Linked DNA regions of Homo sapiens: all the other regions are linked to region 1. Evidence: fine-mapped expression QTL. A gene starts in region 1. Each other region holds a variant in brackets. All regions are shown on one strand. Distances are between the middles of the regions. Region 1 holds the start of ATF5 (activating transcription factor 5). Region 2 holds the start of IL4I1 (interleukin 4 induced 1). Region 3 overlaps CPT1C (carnitine palmitoyltransferase 1C). Region 4 overlaps NUP62 (nucleoporin 62).

What was found. PIP is the estimated chance that this variant, and not a neighbour inherited with it, causes the effect.
Region 2: its variant is fine-mapped to the expression of ATF5 in whole blood (TOPMed, PIP above 0.99).
Region 3: its variant is fine-mapped to the expression of ATF5 in tibial artery (GTEx, PIP 0.95).
Region 4: its variant is fine-mapped to the expression of ATF5 in skeletal muscle (GTEx, PIP 0.92). The same link has a PIP of 0.9 or more in esophagus muscle and sun-exposed skin.

The regions. Positions count from the first base shown.
Region 1 is chr19:49,926,942-49,932,103 of GRCh38, forward strand. ATF5 (activating transcription factor 5) reads left to right here and starts at 2,264. Exons shown (of 3, transcript NM_001193646.2): 1 at 2,264-2,459; 2 at 3,791-4,087. The coding sequence starts at 3,910. NUP62 (nucleoporin 62) reads right to left here and starts at 2,563. Exons shown (of 3, transcript NM_016553.5): 1 at 2,385-2,563; 2 at 753-874. It also overlaps a transcript of IL4I1 not described here. RefSeq lists silencers at 2,094-2,153, 3,004-3,053.
Region 2 is chr19:49,894,705-49,899,832 of GRCh38, forward strand. It overlaps IL4I1 (interleukin 4 induced 1), which reads right to left and starts at 2,183. Exons shown (of 8, transcript NM_152899.2): 1 at 2,131-2,183; 2 at 1,444-1,478; 3 at 1,111-1,349; 4 at 364-476. The coding sequence starts at 1,456. RefSeq lists enhancers at 669-718, 3,113-3,292. The variant G/A (reference allele first, on the strand shown) is at 3,204.
Region 3 is chr19:49,701,073-49,706,234 of GRCh38, forward strand. It overlaps CPT1C (carnitine palmitoyltransferase 1C), which reads left to right. Exons shown (of 20, transcript NM_001199753.2): 6 at 245-346; 7 at 425-562; 8 at 3,638-3,715; 9 at 3,935-4,042; 10 at 4,142-4,226; 11 at 4,837-5,032; 12 at 5,159-5,162. Among named protein-coding and RNA genes, the nearest start is that of CPT1C, 13 kb to the left of the region's middle. The variant A/G (reference allele first, on the strand shown) is at 2,419.
Region 4 is chr19:49,902,024-49,907,152 of GRCh38, forward strand. NUP62 (nucleoporin 62) reads right to left here. Exons shown (of 3, transcript NM_016553.5): 3 at 4,802-5,129. It also overlaps a transcript of IL4I1 not described here. Among named protein-coding and RNA genes, the nearest start is that of IL4I1, 7.7 kb to the left of the region's middle. The variant C/T (reference allele first, on the strand shown) is at 2,449.

The sequences.
Region 1 (5,162 bases):
GCCCCACCCCAGGGTTCAAGTGATCCTCCTGCCTTAGCCTCATGAGTAGCTGGGACCACAGGTGCAAACCACCACACCCGACTATTTTTTTGTATTTTTGGTAGAGACAGGGTTTCACCATGTTGCCCAGGCTGGTCTCGAATTCCTGAGATCAAGCAATCTGCCCACCTCAGCCTCCCAGGGTGGTGGGACTACAGGCATGAGCCACCGTGCCTGGTCCAGAGGTAGGTATTCTTAATGCCACTTCGTACCACAGGGGAAACTGAGGCACAGGGAAGGGAAATGGCCAGGGTCACACAGCTAGTAAGAGGGGTGCAGTCAAGTTTTGAACTCATATAATCTGGCTCCAGAGTCTATGCCAGGTATGTATAAAATTTGGCTTCCTGGGGCCACATTGAAGAATTGTCTTAGGCCACACATAACATACACTATTGATAGCTGATGAACTTAAAAAAAAATCGCAAAAAATTCGCATGTTTTGGTAAGGTTTACAAATTTGTGTTAGGCTGCATTCAAAGCTGTTCTAGGCCGCATGCAGGCCCACGGGTGGGACAAGCTCAGTCTATGCTCTTAGCTGCTACTCTGTATACTGCCTCAGTGATAACACAGCCCCTATAGGCCCAAGAAAATATAGGGCAAGTGCTCAAAAACTGGCAGAGTGGACAGTAAGTGCTCTAAGGGAAGGTGGTCAGATCCCAAGAAGGACTTCCTGCCCGCAACAGGTAAGGAAGGAGAAAGAAGCTTGTGTGTACCGCTCAGTATCAGGATTCCTCCACCTTCTCTGGACCTTGATTCAGTCTCCTAACTGCCACAGAAGGGATGAAGGTTGAACTCCAGCTGGGATGTCCTGATGTGGATGGGACAAGGTGGGTTTCTGCAACAGAGAAAAGACGGACATCCACCTCGGCTGGTGGAGGAGGGCCCAGTGCATGAGAAGGGGCAAGATGGCTACCCTGTGACTAAACGAAAACGGAGATCTTCCATTTTTGGCAGGGTTGGGAGATAGTTCCTATCCAGTGGAAGCTGAAGGACGGTTTGAAAGGAAGCCAAGGGCAAGGGATGGAGAAAAGGACGCAGCTGGGGCCTCGATGTCTGAATCCCTGCCAGGGGATGGGGCCTGGGCACCCATCATTTGGAATGGAAGATGAGGATAGCTGGAAACAGACACTTTAGAGGGATGAGGGAGACAGAAGAATGACAGCAGGTGTTGGACAGTCCAACGTCTGCGGCTCTTACAAGTGGTAAGGAAGAAATGAGACTGGGCCCCAGAGTTCCTATTAATAAAATATGCTGAGGCCGGGAGCGATGGCTCACGCCTGTAATCCCAGCACTTTGGGAGGCCGAGGCGGGCGGATCACGAGGCCAGGAAATTGAGACCATCCTGGCTAACACAGTGAAACCCCGTCTCTACTAAAAATACAAAAAATTAGCCGGGCGTGGTGGCGGGCGCCTGTAGTCCCAGCTACTCGGGAGGCTGAGGCAGGAGAATGGCGTGAACCTGGGAGGCGGAGTTTGCAGTGAGCCGAGATCGCGCCACTGCACTCCAGCCTGGGCGACAGAGACGGAGAGACTCCGTCTCAAAAAAAAAAAACAGTTGAACAGGAATGTATGAGTTGAGCTCTGTGCATAAGGCTTGCCAGACATCGTCTTATTTGAGTCTCATAAACCCACCAGGCGAGTTGATTTTTCTTATTTTACAGATAGGGAAATGAAGTAAGAGAACTTAAGTTATTTGCCCGAGGCCATCCTGGCAGGTCTGTATTTGGGAGAGTGCTGTGACTCATGCTGGACTCTAACCCACGAGGGTTTCTCAGAGTCAGCAGCTGGGGGATGAAGAAGTGAAAAGTGACTGGCAGGAAATTCTGCAAGCAAGGAAAGGGAAAGAGAAATGAACTGGTGCAGGTCTGCGGGAAGAGAATGAGGCTGGATCCTCAAAATCACAGGAGGAAGCAGGCCCAGACCTCAGAGGCAGAAAGAGAAAGAAACCAGAGCTTAGAGTCAGGAGGAGGAAACCAGACCCCGGAGCCACAAGGAGAGGGCTGGATCCCCGGCTCAGAGGGAAGAGGTCGGATCCCCAGCTGAGAGGGAGGAGGGTCCCGGACCCTAGGAGTGGGAAGGAAAGGCTCGGATCCCCTGATCCCCAGGAGGAGGGGACCCGGCTGCCTCCCGGTTGGGGCCGCGCGAGGGCGGGGCGCGGAAGGATCCGGGAGGGCCGTGCTCCGCCACCCAGTATATATCTGTCCCCAGTCCCCGGGGCCGCCTCATTCCCTGTCCTCGGATCACAGTCTCTTCTCACTACAGTGTCGCCGCCTCTGCCTGCGTAGCCCCGGCCATGGCTCTGTAGCCTCGACCCCTTTGTGCCCCCGGCCCGTCTCCGCGCTCACCACGCCTGCGCTCTCCGCTCCCACCTTCTTTCTTCAGCCGAGGCCGCCGCCGCCTCTCCTTGCTGCAGCCATGGAGTGAGTAACCGCTTACCTCTTCTCCAACTGCCTTTCCCGCCCTTTCGCAGCTCGTGGCCCTCTTTAGGGAGCCCTGGGGGGTGGGGAGTCGCGAGCGGGGAATCACGGTCGCGCAGGCGCAGAAGTAGTACGGTGGGCCGAAGGCGCGCGGCTGCGCATGCGCACTGGGCCCGGGGCCGGGTGGGAGAGTTCTAGACTCGATGTTTGTCAGCCCGCGTGCAGCTGGGCCTGAGCACTCCAGGGGAGGGTGTGTTTTTTTTTTTTCTAAACGATTCTTCGTGCTTGGTTGTTCCTGCGCAGTAGCCCACCAGTGCCCCGTAGTGAAAGAGCTGCGGACCCTGAATGGCCGCACATGCGCATTGATCCCCAAGAGGGCGGAGGTGTAAAGGCAATTGGACCGCTCGGGCGACGTAGCATGCGCCTTGGCCCTCGGCGCAGAGCCGCGTGTGGACGGGTGGCGTTCGGGTAGCCGTTCTCCGCGTGCCCCCTCTACCCTCCTCCACCCTCCCTGCCCCACGTTGCTCTGGCTCACAGCCCAGCTTCCTTCCTTTTAAACCAGGCACCTGCTGAGGCGGGGACTGGCTTAGATTGACAGGGCAGAAGGCGGGACCCAGAGGCAACCCTCTAAGTGGGTGGGGATAGAACCACTGTCGTCACGATGGGTGGGATTTCGGAAGCACATTGTGAGAAGGGGCGGGGCTAAACCAACCGTTAGTTGAGGGGTGGGGTTTCGATGTGACAAAGAGGCGGGGCCTCTGGGGAATCGGGGGAGGGGCGGAGCTAAATAAACAATGAGGGGCGGGGCTTGGAGGGGCAGCGGCAGAGCGAGGAGTGGGATTTGAGTGGATAACATTGCTGAAGGGCTGCGGCCTGGGGCAGTTCCCCTGGGAACTGGTTTGGGATGGAAGCTAGGAAGGCAGTGGGGCCAAAAGGAAATATTTTAGAGGAAGGGGCGTGGCTGGAAGAAAATGTCCCTGGGATTGAGTTTTTCCTTGAGGCGAAATATTCTGAGGTGGATGGGAGGGGCCTAAGGTAATTCCCCTGGGAGACCTTTAGGTTTTTTTTTTCTGTATTGGGGGAAGGGGTGGGGCATCGGTCCTACTTTAGGACCTAAAGAAATTCCCTTGGGAGTGGGTGGGGCTCAGAGATTTGGGTAAAGAAAGGGCAAATTTAGAATTCGGAGAGGCTGAGGCTTAGTGTTCTAAACGGTGGTTGGAAGGGGGAGGGAGGAGCCTCATGGACGTGCCTGGGGGTGTGGCTTGGCTTCCCCTTGATTTTGGCCGGTGGATGACGCTGTCCTGACCACACCCACTCTTGTCTCACGCGTGTAGGTCTTCCACTTTCGCCTTGGTGCCTGTCTTCGCCCACCTGAGCATCCTCCAGAGCCTCGTGCCAGCTGCTGGTGCAGCCTCTCCTGTTGCCATCAGTGCCCAGCACCTGTGCTACAGCCATGTCACTCCTGGCGACCCTGGGGCTGGAGCTGGACAGGGCCCTGCTCCCAGCTAGTGGGCTGGGATGGCTCGTAGACTATGGGAAACTCCCCCCGGCCCCTGCCCCCCTGGCTCCCTATGAGGTCCTTGGGGGAGCCCTGGAGGGCGGGCTTCCAGTGGGGGGAGAGCCCCTGGCAGGTAAGGGCAGGTGGAAGGTGGAGCTGGGGAGTGGAGGGCAGGGGAAGATGGGGGAGGAAGAACTCATCCATGTATTCAATAAATATTGAGTGCCTACAATGTGCCAGGCACTGTTTTAGGTGCTGAGGATACGGCTGGGAACAAGAAGAACATGGTCTGTGCCTTCCAGCAGCTCACACTGTGGGGAGTAGACCAGAGATAAATTAAATGAGAGTGTATTGGAATAAGTCAAAAACACCTAGCAGCTGAGCTACAAAATGACAAAGGGGACCTAATATAGAATGGGTAGCCAGAAAACCTTCTCCAAGTAGGTAACATGTTGACTGAGGCATAAATGATGGGAAGGAAGCCAGGCATGATGGCCTGTAATCCCAGCACTTTGGGAGGCCAAGCGGGGAGAATTGCTTTAGTCCAGGAGTTCAGGACGTGGGCAACATAGCGAGACCTCATATCTATAGGAAAAAAAAAATTAGCCAGGCATGGTGGCTCACGCTTGTAGTCACAGCTACTTGGGAGGCTGAGGTGGGAGGATCGCTTGAGCCTGGGAGGTCTAGGCTGCAGTGAGCCAAGATGATGCCACTGCACTGCAGCCTGGGCAACAGAGTGAAACCCTATCCCTTAAAATAAAAAAAAAGTAGGGAAGGAATGAGGAAAACACCCAAGGGAAGAGCATTTTAGTTGGAGGGAACTGTATATGCAGAAGCCCTCAGGAGGCAGGAATCATTTCATTCATTACTGTATCCCAAATGCTTGGCACATAGTGGGTTTTCAATAATTAATGAGTAAAGATGAAACAAGGCATATGTGCGTGTGTATCTGTGTGTGTAATGTGATCTAGTTTGCCTTTTAAAAAGAGAGAATAGAGACACCACAGATACAGAGTACTCGGTAAAGGAGATGTTGGAATGGTTGAAGAAATGCTTGGTTGACTGTTGCTTGAGTCATTGGTTGGTTGGCTGGTTCTTTTTTTCTTTTTTAATTTTTTTTTTCTCCTGGACCCTCTTATGGGTTAAGACTGATTCTTTCATTGGCTAATTTGTTGGGTTTTGGTTAACTGGTTCATTGGTTGATTAAT
Region 2 (5,128 bases), 32 kb before region 1:
ATTAGAATTGGGAAGGGGGACAGAGTTTGGGTTGGACGGGGGTTTGAGATGAAGAAGGGGCCTGGGGCTGGGGTGCCTGAGGGTGTGGGGATGGTGGAGCTGCAGGCCTGGAGGGGCCAGCACAGGAGCTGGCTTTTGCACCAGGCAGGGCCAGCTGGAGGTCTGGTTGGACCAGGTGGCCCGAGTGTTGCCAGAGGCCCAGGGCTGGCGCTGGAGGCAAGACTGAGGTGAGGATTAGGCGAAGGATGGGGTTGGAGGCTGGGTTTGGGAGTCAGAGTGGAAGTTCGGGCCCACTCTGGTGTGGGCATGGAGCTGGGGGGCTAGTTGAGTCTAGGCACACAGGTGGGTGGGTTGCTAGGTCACCTGTGAGAGCTGGGCATGCGCATGGCTCCCAGCTCCCCAATCCAGCCCGTGTTCTGGTCCCGGTAGGTGAAGATGCGGCCCCCGATCCTGTTATCTGCCTCCAGGATGGTGACCTGAGGGAGTCCGTGGGGCGAGGAGGGCCCTTCAGCTCCACCCACTGACCATCCCCTGCCCTCTACCACCCCGTGCCAGCCCCCTGCCTTCTTCCATCCCCACAGTGGCCCAGACCCAGACTAGGAGAGGGTCCCCTTCTGTATGGAGGTGGGGGAACAGAACTGAGTGAGCAGTTCCAGACTGCAGGAGGAAGGCTGCCAGCTAGACTGCAAAGGGACTTCCCAGCTCGGGGAGTTCGGAGATGACCCATATGCGTAGAAGCCCCTGGGCTGGCCCATTCTCATTCTCGGATTGCAGTGAGTAGGTCAGTGGTTAGACCTCAGGGCACACATCCCCTTGGTAGAGTTTCCCTCTCCACCAACAGGCGCCCCACCCCAGGACAGAGGAGCTTTGAGCCAGTGAGACTTCCCTCTGGGATGAAAAACGTGGGACAGGAAAGTCTGGGGCCTCTCAGTGGAGACATGTGACAGCAGGGGGCTTGGGCCTCACCCCCAGACTACAGGGAAAGATAGCCTCTCCCCCCACATCCCCACCTCCACCCCCTCAAGGAGGAACGCGGCCGTGTCCCTGTGCCCAGGGACTCCAGCCTGCAGCAGGAGGGACTCCAGGTAGACTGCAAGCAGTGCTTCCCACCTTGTGTCCAGCATCGCTGAGCACCTTGGCGGCCACCAGCCCGGCCACACCAGCGCCAACCACAATCACCCTCTGGGGCTTCAGGGTCCGATTGAGCCCCCAGGTCACCACCTTGAGCAGCTGCTCATAGTCAGGATCCTGCATGCATTTCTCGAAGGGGTCTTGGCTGCGTTCAGCCTTCCAGTCCTGGGAGGCCACCAGGCTGAGGAGGATGGGGACGAGGACGAGGAGGTGCAGGGCTGGGAGGAGGAGGACAGGGTCAACGGGGTTGTGGCAGGTCGGGGGAGAGGGGTTCTACTCACTTGTTCCAGAGCCCCTCCCCTGCTTACTCACCCAATGGGGCCATGACTCTCGGTGGGAGATGGTGTCTGGGGTGGAGGAGAAGGGAGGGCTGTTGTGACTGAGGCCTGTGACCACTGTAGCCTGACTCTGTCTCCCATGGGCTGCCCAGCTGCTAGAGCCGGCCCTCCCCCAGTCACTGTCCTGCTCTCTGGACCTGTGTCCCCTAACCCCATTCCTTCAGAGTCCCCTGGACCGTCCCTGCCTCCCTCCTCACCGGTCTCCACCTCTGCCACAGCTCTCTCGGGTTCCTGTCTCTTTCTCTTCTTTTCCCTCTTTCTTTCCTTTCTTTCTTTTTTTTTTAACAGTCTTTCTCTGCCATCCAGGCTGGAGTGCAGTGGTAAGATCTTGGCTCACTGCAACCTCCGCCTCCCAGGTTCAAGAATCCTCCCACTTCAGCCTCCCAAGTAACTGGGATTACAGACACCCATAACCAAACCTGGCTAATTTTTGTATTTTTAGTAGAGACGGGGTTTCGCCATGTTGGCCAGGCTGGTCTCGAACTCCTGACCTTAGGTGATCCACCCACCTCGGCCTCCCAAAGTGCTGGGATTCCAGGCATGAGCCCCCGCGCCCGGCCTCTTTTCCCTCTTCCTCATCTCCCCAGCTCCTGACTGCTTCTCAGTCCCTATTTCTGTGGGTCCTGTCTCTCTGTCCCCCCACCACTGGCCGTGTCACTACCTCCAGCTCTTGGTGACAGCAGGACAGCGCGGTCCTCTCCACTGCCCTCCACTGTCTCTGCTGTGGCCCTTTCTCTCCCCTTAAACTGGCAGAGCCCCGCCCACCCCTCCTTTTGGGAAACTGGCCGAGGGAAATGAAACTGGTTTCCTGGAGCTGCTCTGGTCCAATGCTCAGAGTCTAGTTGAGGTTGGAGAAAGGGGGTTGGAGGAAGTTAATCAGTCTATTCACTTCCTTTTGCCCCAGATAGTTCTGGGGTGGTTTGGAGGCCAGAAATAGATGCTCAGGTAACCGTGCCAACAACGGGGAATCCCCTTCGGTTTGCCCCCGTCCCTGATCACCAGGCCACTTGTTTCTATCCTCCCCTGCACTCTCTCTGCCTCCTTGATTCCCACGGGGACAGAGGGGCTACAGGTCCCTGGGCCAGGCCAACTTTCCCCTCCAAGTCCCTCTCCGTCAGGTGTCGCCATGTCCTGCAGGGCCCCCCATGGTTCCACTTCCCTCTCCACTTGCCACCCAGAGCCTCAGTCTCCCCCTCCGTTACATGGGTGTAGCAGTGGGGCTGGCAGCCGTGGTCCCGGGGTCAGGACGTGGGCTCTGAGCCCGCCCTCCCCTCTGTGGCTCTCGTCTACAGCTGTCAAATGACGTCTACAGACGTCACAGTGTTTTAGGATCAAGTGAGTGAATCCAGGTTAAGTTCTGTGGCCGGAACCTGGGGTAGTACTGGAAGCTGCTCCTTTGGAAATGCCAGCTGCTGTGGCCGCAGGGGCACTCAGGGGTTCTATGAGTGACCACCCGGCAGAGGGAAGCGCCCAGGCTTCACCCATCCCTGCTTTAAGAACCACCTCAGTGCTCAGGGCAGGGAGTGGGGCGGCACCTTGGAGTGGGTGGGGGTGGAGAAACAATAGCAGGGACTTTCCTTGGGGTGGGGGAGAGGGAGCCAGGGGCTCCGTGAGGAGGAAAACCAGAGGGAGGCAGATTCTCTGCAGCAAGGGTTGGGTGGGGGTTGGAGGGCATTAACAAGAAGGAAGATGGGAAACTCCCGCAGTAAATCAAAGAGGGATGCGGTTATGGCC[G/A]GGAGGGGCTGGGGGGTGAATGTGAGTAACAAGGCATGTGACGCAGGGGCGGGAGGCCGTGGCAAAGGGAAATGATCAAAGAGCTGGAGAGTTCAGGGACCGAAAGAGCTTGGGTCAGCAAAAATAGTGACGAGGGCCAGGGGTGGCTCACGCCTATAATCCCAGCACTTTGGGAGGTCGAGGCAGGCGGATCACCTGATGTCAGGAGTTCAAGACCAGCCTGGCCAACATGGCAAAACCTCGTCTCTACTAAAAATATAAAAATTAGCCGGGCATGGTGGCATACGCCTGTAGTCCCAACTACTCAGGAGGCTGGGACAGGAGAATTGCTTGAACCCAAGAGGTGGAGGTTGCAGTGAGCTGAGATCGTGCCACTGCACTCTAGCCTGGGTGACAGAGCCAGACTCCATCTCAAAAAATAAAAAATAAAAATAAAAAATAGTAATGAGGGCCGGGTGCGGAGGCTCACTGCTGTAATCCTAGCACTTTGGGAGGCCGAGGTGGGAGGATTGCTTGAGCCCAGGGGCTCGAGACCAGCCTGGCCAAGATGGCGAAACCCTTTCTCTAAAAAAGAAAAAAATAGTGACAAAAATGTTCCCATGGCGATCACCTGCCTTGGAGGCCGCCTGGTGCTCAGGGCTTTGCACCCATCGTAAGCCTCACAATGCCTGCATTTGAGGCCAGGCACAGTGGCTTACGCCTGTAATCCCAGCACTTTGGGAGGCTGAGGTGGGCGGATCACTTGAGGTCAGGAGTTCAAGACCAACCTGGCCAAAATGATGAAACCCTGTCTCTACCAAAAATATAAAAAATTAGCCAGGCGTGGTGGTGCACACCTGTAATCCCAACTACTCGGGACACTGAGGCAGGAGAATCGCTTGAACCCGGGAGGCAGAGGTTGCAGTGAGCCGAGATTGCACCGCTGCACTCCAGCCTGGGGGACAGAGTGAGACTCCGTCTCAAAAACAAACAAACAAACAAACAAAAAACCAACAACAATGCCTGCATTTGATAGTTGAGGAAACTGAGGCTTGGAGATGGCGAGAGGGTGGGACAGGAGGACCCTGGGGCACAGAGAGGGGAAAAGGCTTGGCCTAGGTCTCAGAGTTTCATTCACAGCGACATGTCAAGTATGAACGCGGCGGGATTGGGGCCTTATTCGCCTGTGCCTCGACCTGGGTCCCACAGTGGGGAATGGCAGTGCTGGCATTCCTCACCAGGTCGGGTGGGCCCCAGGTCCCCGGCCCCTGCCCAATAGCTTGTTCAGTCCTACAGCCGCATAACAGTGGAAACAACCATGGAAAGGTGTGGAGGCCCACAGCCAACTGGCTCCCAGGGCATGTCCCAGGAGTTTTTGGGTCCCCAGAGTGGGTGGGGCCCTGCACCAATCCCCTTGTCCTTATCACAGAGGGTTGTTGCACAAAACTCCTCTGGCCCCAGGCATATGTGCAGCTCACCTTGGGGGACTTCTGGGTGGTTGTTGTTGTTGTTTTGAGAGATGGGGTCTTGCTGTGTCACTCAGGCTAGAGCACAGTGGCACAATCTCGGCTCACTGCAGCCTCAACCTCCCGGGCTCAAGCAATCCTCCCACCTCAGCCTCCCTAGTAGCTGGGACTACAGGAGTGCACTACCACACCTGTTTTTTGTTTTTTTTGTTTTTTTTAATTGAGACGGAGTCTCACTCTGTCACCCAGGCTGGAGTGTAGTGGCGCTATCTTGGCTCACTGCAAGCTCCACCTCCTGGGTTCACGCCATTCTCCTGCCTCAGCCTCCAGAGTAGCTGGGACTACAGGCACCTGCCACCACGTCCGGCTAATTTTTGTATTTTTAGTAGAGATGAGATTTCACCGTGTTAGCCAGGATGGTCTCAATCTCCTGACTTTGTGATCTGCCCGCCTCGGCCTCCCAAAGTCCTGGGATTACAG
Region 3 (5,162 bases), 230 kb before region 1:
CTCTGGGTCTCTACCCCCGACTCTCTCTGGGTCTCTGCCCCCCTCTCTCTCTGGGTCTCTGTCCCCCTCTCTCTGGGTCTCTGTCCCCTGTCTCTGGGTCTCTGTTCCTTTCTCTCTTGGGGTCTCCGATGCTCTTAAGTCTCTGTGTCCTTCTCTTTGGGTTTCTGTCCCACTGTCGACCCCTGCCCCGTCAACTCCCTGGCTCCGGTGAGGGGTTAATGACCCGGTAACTCCTCCTCCCCAGGCCCTGGTCCGCATCTTCTCTGGCCGCCACCCGATGCTGTTCAGTTACCAGCGCTCCCTGCCACGCCAGCCCGTGCCCTCTGTGCAGGACACCGTGCGCAAGGTGGGCCTGGGAGCGCGCAGACGGGCTGGGGCGGCCGGGGCGGGCCGGGGGCGTGACCTGCCCTCTTCTCCCCTTTAGTACCTGGAGTCGGTCCGGCCCATCCTCTCCGACGAGGACTTCGACTGGACCGCGGTCCTGGCGCAGGAATTCCTGAGGCTGCAGGCGTCGCTGCTGCAGTGGTACCTGCGGCTCAAGTCCTGGTGGGCGTCCAATTATGTGAGTCCCGCCACCGCCACCAACGCCCCACCTGAAGGGCTAAGGTTGTGAGCTCGCCTGCTAAACTTGCGAGTTATACGCCCTGCCCCACGACACGCCCACAACCCACACGCCCCCAGCCCCCAAGGGTCAATACCCTGAGCCCCGCTCACATACATCTATATCCTAACCTCCACATTTATATATATATAAAAATATATATGTATATATATTTATTTATATATAAATATATAGTGTATATATAAATATATATATTTATTTATAAATATATATATTTATATTTATATACAAATATTAATATTTATAAATTTATATATAAATATATTTATATATAAATTTATAAATAAATATATAAATATTATAAATATATTAAATATATTTATTTATAAATTATAAATATATATTTATTTATAAATTATAAATATATATTTATTTATAAATTATAAATATATATTTATTTATAAATTATAAATATATATTTATTTATTTATAAATTATAAATAAATATATATTTATTTATAAATTATAAATAAATATATATTTATTTATATATAGGCTTATATATTTATTTATATATATATGCTCATAACATATATATGCTCTCTCTATATATTTAATGTTGAAGTTTGGGGTATAGATGCTCCAGTATTCTGAGCTTCACCCTTGATCTTCCAAAGTTTGAACCAGAATTCCAGGACTTAGCCCTGGTGCAATGTCTCACGCCTGTAATGCCAGCAGGTTGCGAGGCCAAGGCAGGCGGATCACGTGAGGTCAAGAGTTCAAGACCAGCCTGGCCAACATGGTGAAACCCCGTCTCTACTAAAAATACAAAAATTAAACAGGTCTGGTGGCGCACACGCCTATAATCCCAGCTACTCGGGAGGCTGAGGCGGGAGGATTGCTTGAACCCAGGAGGCAGAGGTGGCACTGAACTGAGATCGCGCCACTGCACTTCGGCCTGGGCCACAGAGCAAGACTCTGTCTCAAAAAAAAAAAAAGAAAAGAAAAAAAAAAAGACAAAACCAAAGGAGTTGAATGGTGAGGAGTGGTGGGAGAGGCCTGAACTCCAGACTGAGGATCCTGGACTCTTTCCTGGGGGTACTAGGGAGCCATGGGAGGGTTTGGAGCAGGGAAGGGGCAGGGTCAGCTTTGGTGTGGGGGAAAGACTGGAGGGCGGGAGGCTGCAGAGGAAGCTACCGTGAGACCTACCATTGTAGGTCATTGAGACACTGGGCTGGGATGAGAAAAGCTGCAGCAAGAGTGAGAGGGGAAGGGAAGAGGGTCCCCGGCAGAGCCCCACGAGGCAGCTATGTGGAAGCCTCAGTTGGTCAAACCCAGCGAAGGGGACGAAATATCTGGAGAAGTAAAAGGGAATGCAGGCCTTGCTTTTCTGGTTAAATATTTTTTTCTTCACACTTTTGGACAAGATTCTGTTTACACACACACACACACACACACACACACACTCATTTCTTTCTTCCCTTCCTTCCCTCCCTCCCTCCCTCCTTTCCTACCTTCTTTCCTGCCTGCCTGCCTGCCTTCTCTCTCTCTTTCCTTCCTTTTTTTCTGTCTCCTTCCTTCCTTTTTTTCTTTGAGATGGAGTCTCACTCTGTCGCCCAGGCTGTAGTGCACTGGCACCGTCTCAGCTCACTGCAAGCTCTACCTCCCAGGTTCACGCCATTCTCCTGCCTCAGCCTCCCATACCTGGCTAATTTCTTTTTTTTTTTTTTTGTATTTTTGTATTTTTAGTAGAGATGGGGTTTCACCGTGTTAGCCAGGATGGTCTCGACCTCCTGACCTCGTGATCCGCCTGCCTCGGCCTCCCAAAGTGTTGGGATTTACAGGCGTGAGCCACC[A/G]TGCCCGGCCTCTTTCTTTCTTTCTTTCTCTATCTTTCTCTCTCTCCCCCTCCCTCCCTTTCTGTCTCTCTCTCCTCCCTCCCTCCCTCCCTCCCTCCCTCCCTCCCTTCCTTCCTTCCTTCCTTCCTTCTCTCTTTCTCTCTCTTTCCTTTTTCTTTCTTGGAAGGGGTCTCACTCTGTCACCCAGGCTGTAGTGCAGTGGCGTGATCAAAGCTCACTGCAGCCTTGACCTCCCAGACTCAAGCCATCCTCCCATCTCAGCCTCCTGAGTAGCTGGGACTACAGGCATGTGCCCCTAAGCCTGGCTAATTTTTAAATTTTTTGTAGACATGGGGTCTTGCTATGTTGCACAGACTGGTCTCAAACTCCGAGGCTCAAGCTATCCTCCCACCTCAGCCTCCCAAAATGCTGAGATAAGAGGTGTGAGCCACTGCGCCCAGCCTGTATATTTTATTGTACCTCCAAGCCAACTGCCAGTGACACACGCACCATTTTTTTATGTACAACAACAACAACAAAAAACCCTACAAGAGCAGCTAAACCGTGACACAGTGCTTTCTTTTGTGTTTTTCATTGTTTGAATTTTATCATGGTATTGGCAAGGCCACAATTTTCATGTATTTACACATATGTATATTATTTCACATATTTATTGTTTTATAAATTTTACATTTATGTTCTGTTTTTCTTTTTTGGGGGGGACGGAGTTTCACTCTTGTTGCCCAGGCTGGAGTGCAATGGTGCGATCTCAGCTCCTTGCAACCTCTGCCTCCCCGACTCAAGCGATTCTCCTGCCTCAGGCTACCGAGTAGCCGGGATTACAGGCGTGCACCACCACGTGTGGCTAATGTTTGTATTTTTAGTAGAGACAGGGTTTCATCATGTTGGCCAGGCTGGTCTTGAACACCTGACCTCAGGTGATCCACCCGCTTAGCCTCCCAAAGTGCTGGGATTACAGGCGGGAGCCACCGTGCCCAGCTGTACCTTGTTATTTCCACCAGCTATGTAATATTCCACTGCCGGAGTATAACAGGGTTTAGCTAACTGATCCCCCATGGATGGATTTCTAGGTGATCGCTAGTTACTGACTACGATGGCTGACTTCTTTGGCTCTATCCTCCCTGCCTGACGCAGGAGCATCTGGGGCCTTCCCTGTCCTACTGTCCCTCCCCCAACAGGCCCCAGCCCCTCACTGTGTGTCTCCCCACCCCGCTCCCAGGTCAGTGACTGGTGGGAGGAATTTGTGTACCTGCGCTCCCGAAATCCGCTGATGGTGAACAGCAACTATTACATGATGGTGAGAAGGGGAGGGGTGAGGTTCATAGGCCCCAGGTCTAGGGTTGGGGGGTACCTGGGCGGAATGTGACGGTCATGCTCAGTGACCTGGATCTAGACGCGCCATCTGGGATTCATCATTCCACCCTCTTTTGGGGTCAGGACCTGTATTTGGGTCAGTGGCTCCATCGGGGGCAAACCTGACCCTGGGTGTTTTGCCATCCCCTCTCCTGGTCCCCAGGACTTCCTGTATGTCACACCCACGCCTCTGCAGGCAGCTCGCGCTGGGAATGCCGTCCATGCCCTCCTCCTGTACCGCCACCGCCTGAACCGCCAGGAGATACCCCCGGTGAGAGGGCCCCAGTGGGTTAGGGATGGAGGTGTGGTCCTGTGGCCTTTGGGCCACGTGGGTCCTGGAAGGCAGCTCACAGCCCACGGTTTCCTGCAGACTTTGCTGATGGGAATGCGCCCCTTATGCTCTGCCCAGTACGAGAAGATCTTCAACACCACGCGGATTCCAGGGGTCCAAAAAGGTGAGACCCTCTCCTGTCCCCACTGATGGAGGCAGAACAATATAGTGGCTAAGAGCATGTTTTCTGGAGTCCGCCTGACTGAGCTGGGAACCATTGCTTCCTTGCTGTGTGACCTTCTGCACGTTATTACCCTCTCTGAGCCTCAGCTTCCACTAAAGTGGGATAATAATTGTACCTAGGGGCTGGGCGCAGTGACTGATGCCTGTAATCCCAGCACTTTGTGGGGCCGAGGTGGACAATTGCTTAGGCCAGGAGTTCGAGACCAGCCTAGGGCAACGTAGTGAGATCCGGTCTATATACAAAATTTAAAAATTAGCCAGGCATGGTGATATGCACCTGTGGCCCCAGTTAATCGGGAGCCTGAAGTGGAAGGATCACCTGAGCCCCGGAGGTTGAGGCTGCAGTGAGCTGAGATCTCACCACTGCACTCCAGCCTGGCGACAGAGCGAGACCTTGTCTCCAAATACTAAGTAAATAAAAGTCCTAGGGTGCTGATGATTACTAGGGTACTTTGAACAACTGACGACACCTAAGAAGTATATAATAAATGGTCACTATTTTTATGTGTCTGGCCTTCCTGCCCCCATGCTTCTGCCAACGCCACCCCTAGACTACATCCGCCACCTCCATGACAGCCAACACGTGGCTGTCTTCCACCGGGGCCGATTCTTCCGCATGGGGACCCACTCCCGAAACAGCCTGCTTTCCCCGAGAGCCCTGGAGCAGCAGTTTCAGAGAATCCTGGATGATCCCTCACCGGCCTGCCCCCACGAGGAACATCTGGCAGCTCTGACAGCTGCTCCCAGGTAAGGGTCAGGGGTCAGGGGTCAGGGGCTCTCAGAGGCCGCCAGTGTCCTGAGACTGTGGAAGGGCAGGGTGGGGCCAGGTGGCGGCTGGGCAGGATGGACTCAGGCACATCCCGGGCCCTCCAGGGGC
Region 4 (5,129 bases), 25 kb before region 1:
GAGTCTCGTTCTGTCACCCAGGCCGGAGTGCAGTGGCACAATCTCAGCTCACTGCAACCTCCACCTCCTGGGTTCAAGTGGTTCTCCTGCCTCAGCCTCCCGAGGAGCTGCGATTACAGGTACAGGCCACCATGCCCAGCTAATTTTCGTATTTTTAGTAGAGACAGGGTTTCACCATGTTGGCTGGGCTGGTCTCGAACTCCTGACTTCGGGTGATCCCTCCCATCTTGGCCTCCCAAAGTGCTGGGATTACAAGGCTGAGCCACTGCACCTGACCATGTTTTGCTTTTTAAAAACTACAATATCATTATCATATTTTAAGATGGCAGCCATTTCTTTTTTTTTTTTTTTTTTGAGATGGAGTCTCGCTCAGTTGCCCAGGCTGGAGTGCAGTGGCACGATCTCGGCTCACTGCAAGCTCCGGATGGCAGCCATTTCTTAATATCATTAAATCAATGTTCACGTTTCCTGGAATAGCTCATCACTGAAAAACAAAACAAAACAAAACAAAAAAACAGTTTAGGCCGGGCATGGTGGCTGACACCTGCAATCACAGTACTTTGGGAGGCCGAGGTGAGCGGATCACCTGAGGTCAGGAGCTCAAGACCAGCCTGGGCAACATGGTGAAACCCCATCTCTACTAAAAATACAAAAATTAGCCAGGCGTGGTGGCGGGCACCTCTGTAATCCCAGCTACTCAGGAGGCTGAGGCAGGAGAATCACTTGAACCTGGGAGGCAGAGGTCGCTATGAGTTGAGATCATGCCACTCCAGCCTAGGCGACAGAGCGGGACTGCATCTCAAAAAAAAAAGGCCAGGTGTGGTGGCTCATGCCTGTAATCCCAGCACTCTGGGAGGCCGAGACAGGTGGATCACAAGGTCAGGAGATCAAGACCATCCTGGCCAACATGGTAAAACCCTGTCTCTACTAAAAATACGAAAATTAGCTGGGTGTGGTAGTGCACGCCTGTAGTCCCAGCTACTCAGGAGGCTGAGGCAGGAGAATCGCTTGAACCCGGGAGGCAGAGATTGCAGTGAGCCGAGATCACACCACTGCACGCCAGCCTGAGCAACAGAGCAGGACTCTCTGAAAAAAAAAACAACAACAAAACAAAAAACGGTTGGTTTGTCAAGATGCAAATCACAGTCCATATTGCATTTGAGTGACATTGTCTTGGTCAGTAAGTGTCACTATCAGTTCTGTGGATTCAAGGGAACTAGGGTATCTGAGGTGACCCCAGGGCACCAGGCTAGTCCCCATCACGGCAGCGCACCCGGTCTGCTTCTTGCCTCGGGAAACCTTTGGCGTCTGAGAGGGTTCAACCTGATGGTGTCTGGAGGGGAGACGGGACAAGGGCGCCCATGTGGGTCACTGTGTTTGAAGTCACCAGGGCCCTGGTGTGCAGAAGCCAAGGGTGTGGTCCTGTGGGACAGGCAGGGGAACAGCCGGGGTCACTGAAACCTGGCTGGGGGGCTGGCTGCTGTGCAAGAAGCAGACCTCGCTTCCGAGCGTGAGGGCTTTGCTCCCTGGGAGGTTCTGTGGAGAGCCGCTGCCCTGAGTCTGAGGGGCAGATTTTTAAAGCACCCTGACATTTTTGGGGTTTACTGAAAACTTGGGAGCAGTGGTGTGCTGAAGCTGAGTCATACCAGGTCATAAGAGCTGATTTACATTTTCAGGAGTTTTTGCTTTGCAAGCCACTCATTACTAAAAAATAAATTGTATTGATGATTAGTTTTTACTAAAAAAGAATAAAAAGTCATCATTCCCTCATGGTTTGACTACATATTATACTGTTATATGTGCTGGGTTTTTTTTTTTTTTTTTTTTTTTTTTGAGACAGGGTCTCACTTTTGTTACCCAGGCTGGAGTGCAGTGGTACGATCTCGGCTCACTGCAATGTCTGCCTCCCAGGTTCATGTGATCCTCCCACCTCAGCCTCCAAGTATCTGAAACTACAGGCAGGAGCCACTACGCCAGGCTAATTTTTGTATTTTTGTAGAGACGAGGTTTCGCCATGTTGCCCAGGCTGGTCTCAAACTCCAGACCCCAAGTAATCTACTCCCCTTGGCCTCCCCAAAATGTCGGGATTACAGGCATGAGCCACCACACCCAGCCCCCATTTGCCACTCTTATCCCTAAACAGGGGAAAGCAAAGCAGTAAGAGCTGAGATTCACCTTTAAAAGCCTCTGATTCCAAATTTAGTCACCAAATGTGTTGTCTTCATATGAATTAATGAGGAACTTAAGGAAAGGCCATTTGTCAGGACTGGGAAGGAAGCACATCTGTGTATTTTCTTCCTGGAAAGGGAAACTGAAATTACGATGGAGCCATCACCCGCGGTGGCACCCAGTCGGTTGCTGATGCTGCTGCGATCTCGGGATCCCTCCTAGACTCCCCCAGGAGGCCTGTTGGGACCATTTCTCACATGGCTTTGGGGCACAGAGCCT[C/T]CTGATTTAATGGAATCACTTGTGTTATTCAGAGTGGGGTGCTCAAGATCCTTTGGGGTATGGGAAGAAAATGCAGAACTTAAAATTTTTTTTTTGAGATGAAGTCTAACTTTGTTGCCCAGGCTGGAGTGCAGTGGCGCGATCTTGGCTCACTGCAACCTCCGCCTCCCAGGTTCAAGTGATTCTCCTGAGTACCTGGGAGTTACAGGCACCCACCACCACGCCGGGCTAATTTTTGTATTATTTATTTACTTATTTGAGACGGAGTCACTCTTTTGCCCAGGCTGGAGTGCAGTGGCTTGATCTCTGCTCACTGTAAGCTCCGCCTCCCGGGTTCATGCCATTCTCCTGCCTCAGTCTCCCGAGTAGCTGGGACTATAGGCGCCTGCCACCACACCCGGCTAATTTTTTTATATTTTTAGTAGAGACAGGGTTTCACCGTGTTAGCCAGGATGGTCTCGATCTCCTAACCTCGTGATCCGCCCACCTTGGCCTCCCAAAGGGCTGGGATTACAGGCATGAGCCACCGTGCCCAGCCCCTAATTTTTGTATTTTTAGAAGATACGGGGTTTCACCATGTTGGCCAGGCTGGTCTCAAACTCCTGACCTCAGGTGATCCACCCGCCTCGGCCTCCCAAAGCTGGAATTTATTTTAAAAATATAACTATAAGAAAGCAATTAAGCTTTGCTAATGGTTAATATACAAAATAGGAAATAATATGCAAAATAATAGGAAAAATATACATGTACACTTTGGAAATACATGCTCAAATTTTCTCATCATGATTGTGTGGCCCCTGCCAACGACCTTGTGGGCATTTTTTGGTACCTCCAGCACCAGATCAGGATCAGCTCTAAAAATGGATGCTGAACGCACAAATGTAGGTAAAATGCAAACTGCTTCCTACCTCCTAAGGGGACTCAAGGCCTCCCTTCCGGCAGAGGGGACAATATGAGTCAAGGCCTATGAACTGCAGGAAAAGGTCCCTGCTGTAGGTGACAGCTTTCAGAGAGAAGTAGCTGGGTTGTGGGGTCTTCCTCTGGTTTACTGCTCCCACCACACACACCCATGGTTTCTACTTAGACACAACTCTTGTCCTCCAGAGCCCAAGATGGTGCAAGGAAATTTTATTTATTTATTTGAGACGAAGTTTCGCTTTTGTTGCCTAGGCTGGAGTGCAATGGCATGATCTCGGCTCACTGCAACCTCCACCTCTCGGGTTCAAGCGATTCTCCTGCCACAGCCTCCCGAGTAGCTGGGATTACAGGCGCCCGCCACTTAACTAGCCACCAGCTCATGTTTGTATTTTTGGTAGAGATGGGATTTCTCCATGTTGGCCATGCTGGTCTCGAACTCCTGACCTCAGGTGTTCTGCCAGCCTTGGCCTCCCAAAGTGCTGGGATTACAGGTGTGAGCCACCGCACCTGGCCGGTCCAAGGAAATAATGACTCATGATCATGACTTCGGGAGACTTTTGGAACCTGGGCCATGAATCTCCCAAGTGTTGCCCACAGACTGAGATGGAACAGGCAGCAGGAGGCCAAAGGGGTACACTCCACTCCCCACAGCCCAGGAGATCTGAGTGCTTAGGACCATTCCAGTCCATAGAGCGAGGCTGGAGGGTGGAGGAAGAGCATTGGGCCCGTGTCTTTAGCCCCAGGTGACAGGAAGGAATGCTGCCCATGACATCTGTAACCACTGGAATAGCGCCTTAGGGATGGTACTAGATGACTTAACATGTGTGTATATTTTTTGAGACAGAGTCTTGCTCTGTCGCCCAGGCTGGAGTGCAGTGGTGTGATCATGGCTCACTGCAGCCTCAAAGGCCTGGGCTTAAATGATCCTTCCATCTCAGCCTCCCAGGTAGCTGGGACCACAGTTGCGTGCCACCACGCACAACCAAACTTTTTTGTAGTTTTTATAGAGACGGGGTTTCACCATGTTGCCCAGGCTGGTCTTGAATCCCTGACCTCAAGTGATCTGCCCATCTTGGCCTCCCAAAGTGCTGGGATTACAGGTGTGAGCCACCTCGCCCAGCCATATTTGTGTATATTCTACGACATAACTGTCACAAAACACCTGGAGCCCACTCCCCGTGGCGGCTTCACTCGTGTGTTCCTCTTCTACCACTAGCACCACCCCTTCCTGGAGCAAACCACGATTTGCATTTGTCTATTACTCTGTCTCATCAAACAAAAGCTGCTTCATCGCATACCCCTATGTCTATGCAAGCACTACTTCATTTGCTTGCCTGTGCGTTTCATGTGAATGGCACCCCTGCAGAGTCTCCTGGAACCTGCTCTTTTTACTCAGCTTTCTCCTCCTAACATTTATCCATATTAACAGCAGCTGTTTTGGTTTCACAATACATTTATTTAGAAAAGCAACATACAGTAATAGGTATTTCAGAGAATTCAGCAAAGTATAAAGACAAATACAAAAGATGCTTGGGATACAACCGCTAGCTTCTGCCTTCCACACACAGTGGATTTTACTGTAACTGACTAGAGTTACTCTGGTGCCACTAAGTTCCGAGCCAAGTCTACGGCCACCACTGGAAGCTGTGGCTATTTCTGTGGACTGACGTTACACTGGGCTTCATTGTTCTTTCATTTAACAAATGTGACAGGGACCGGGCTGGGGACACACGGGGAACGACAGTGGGTCTCTGCCCATGGGA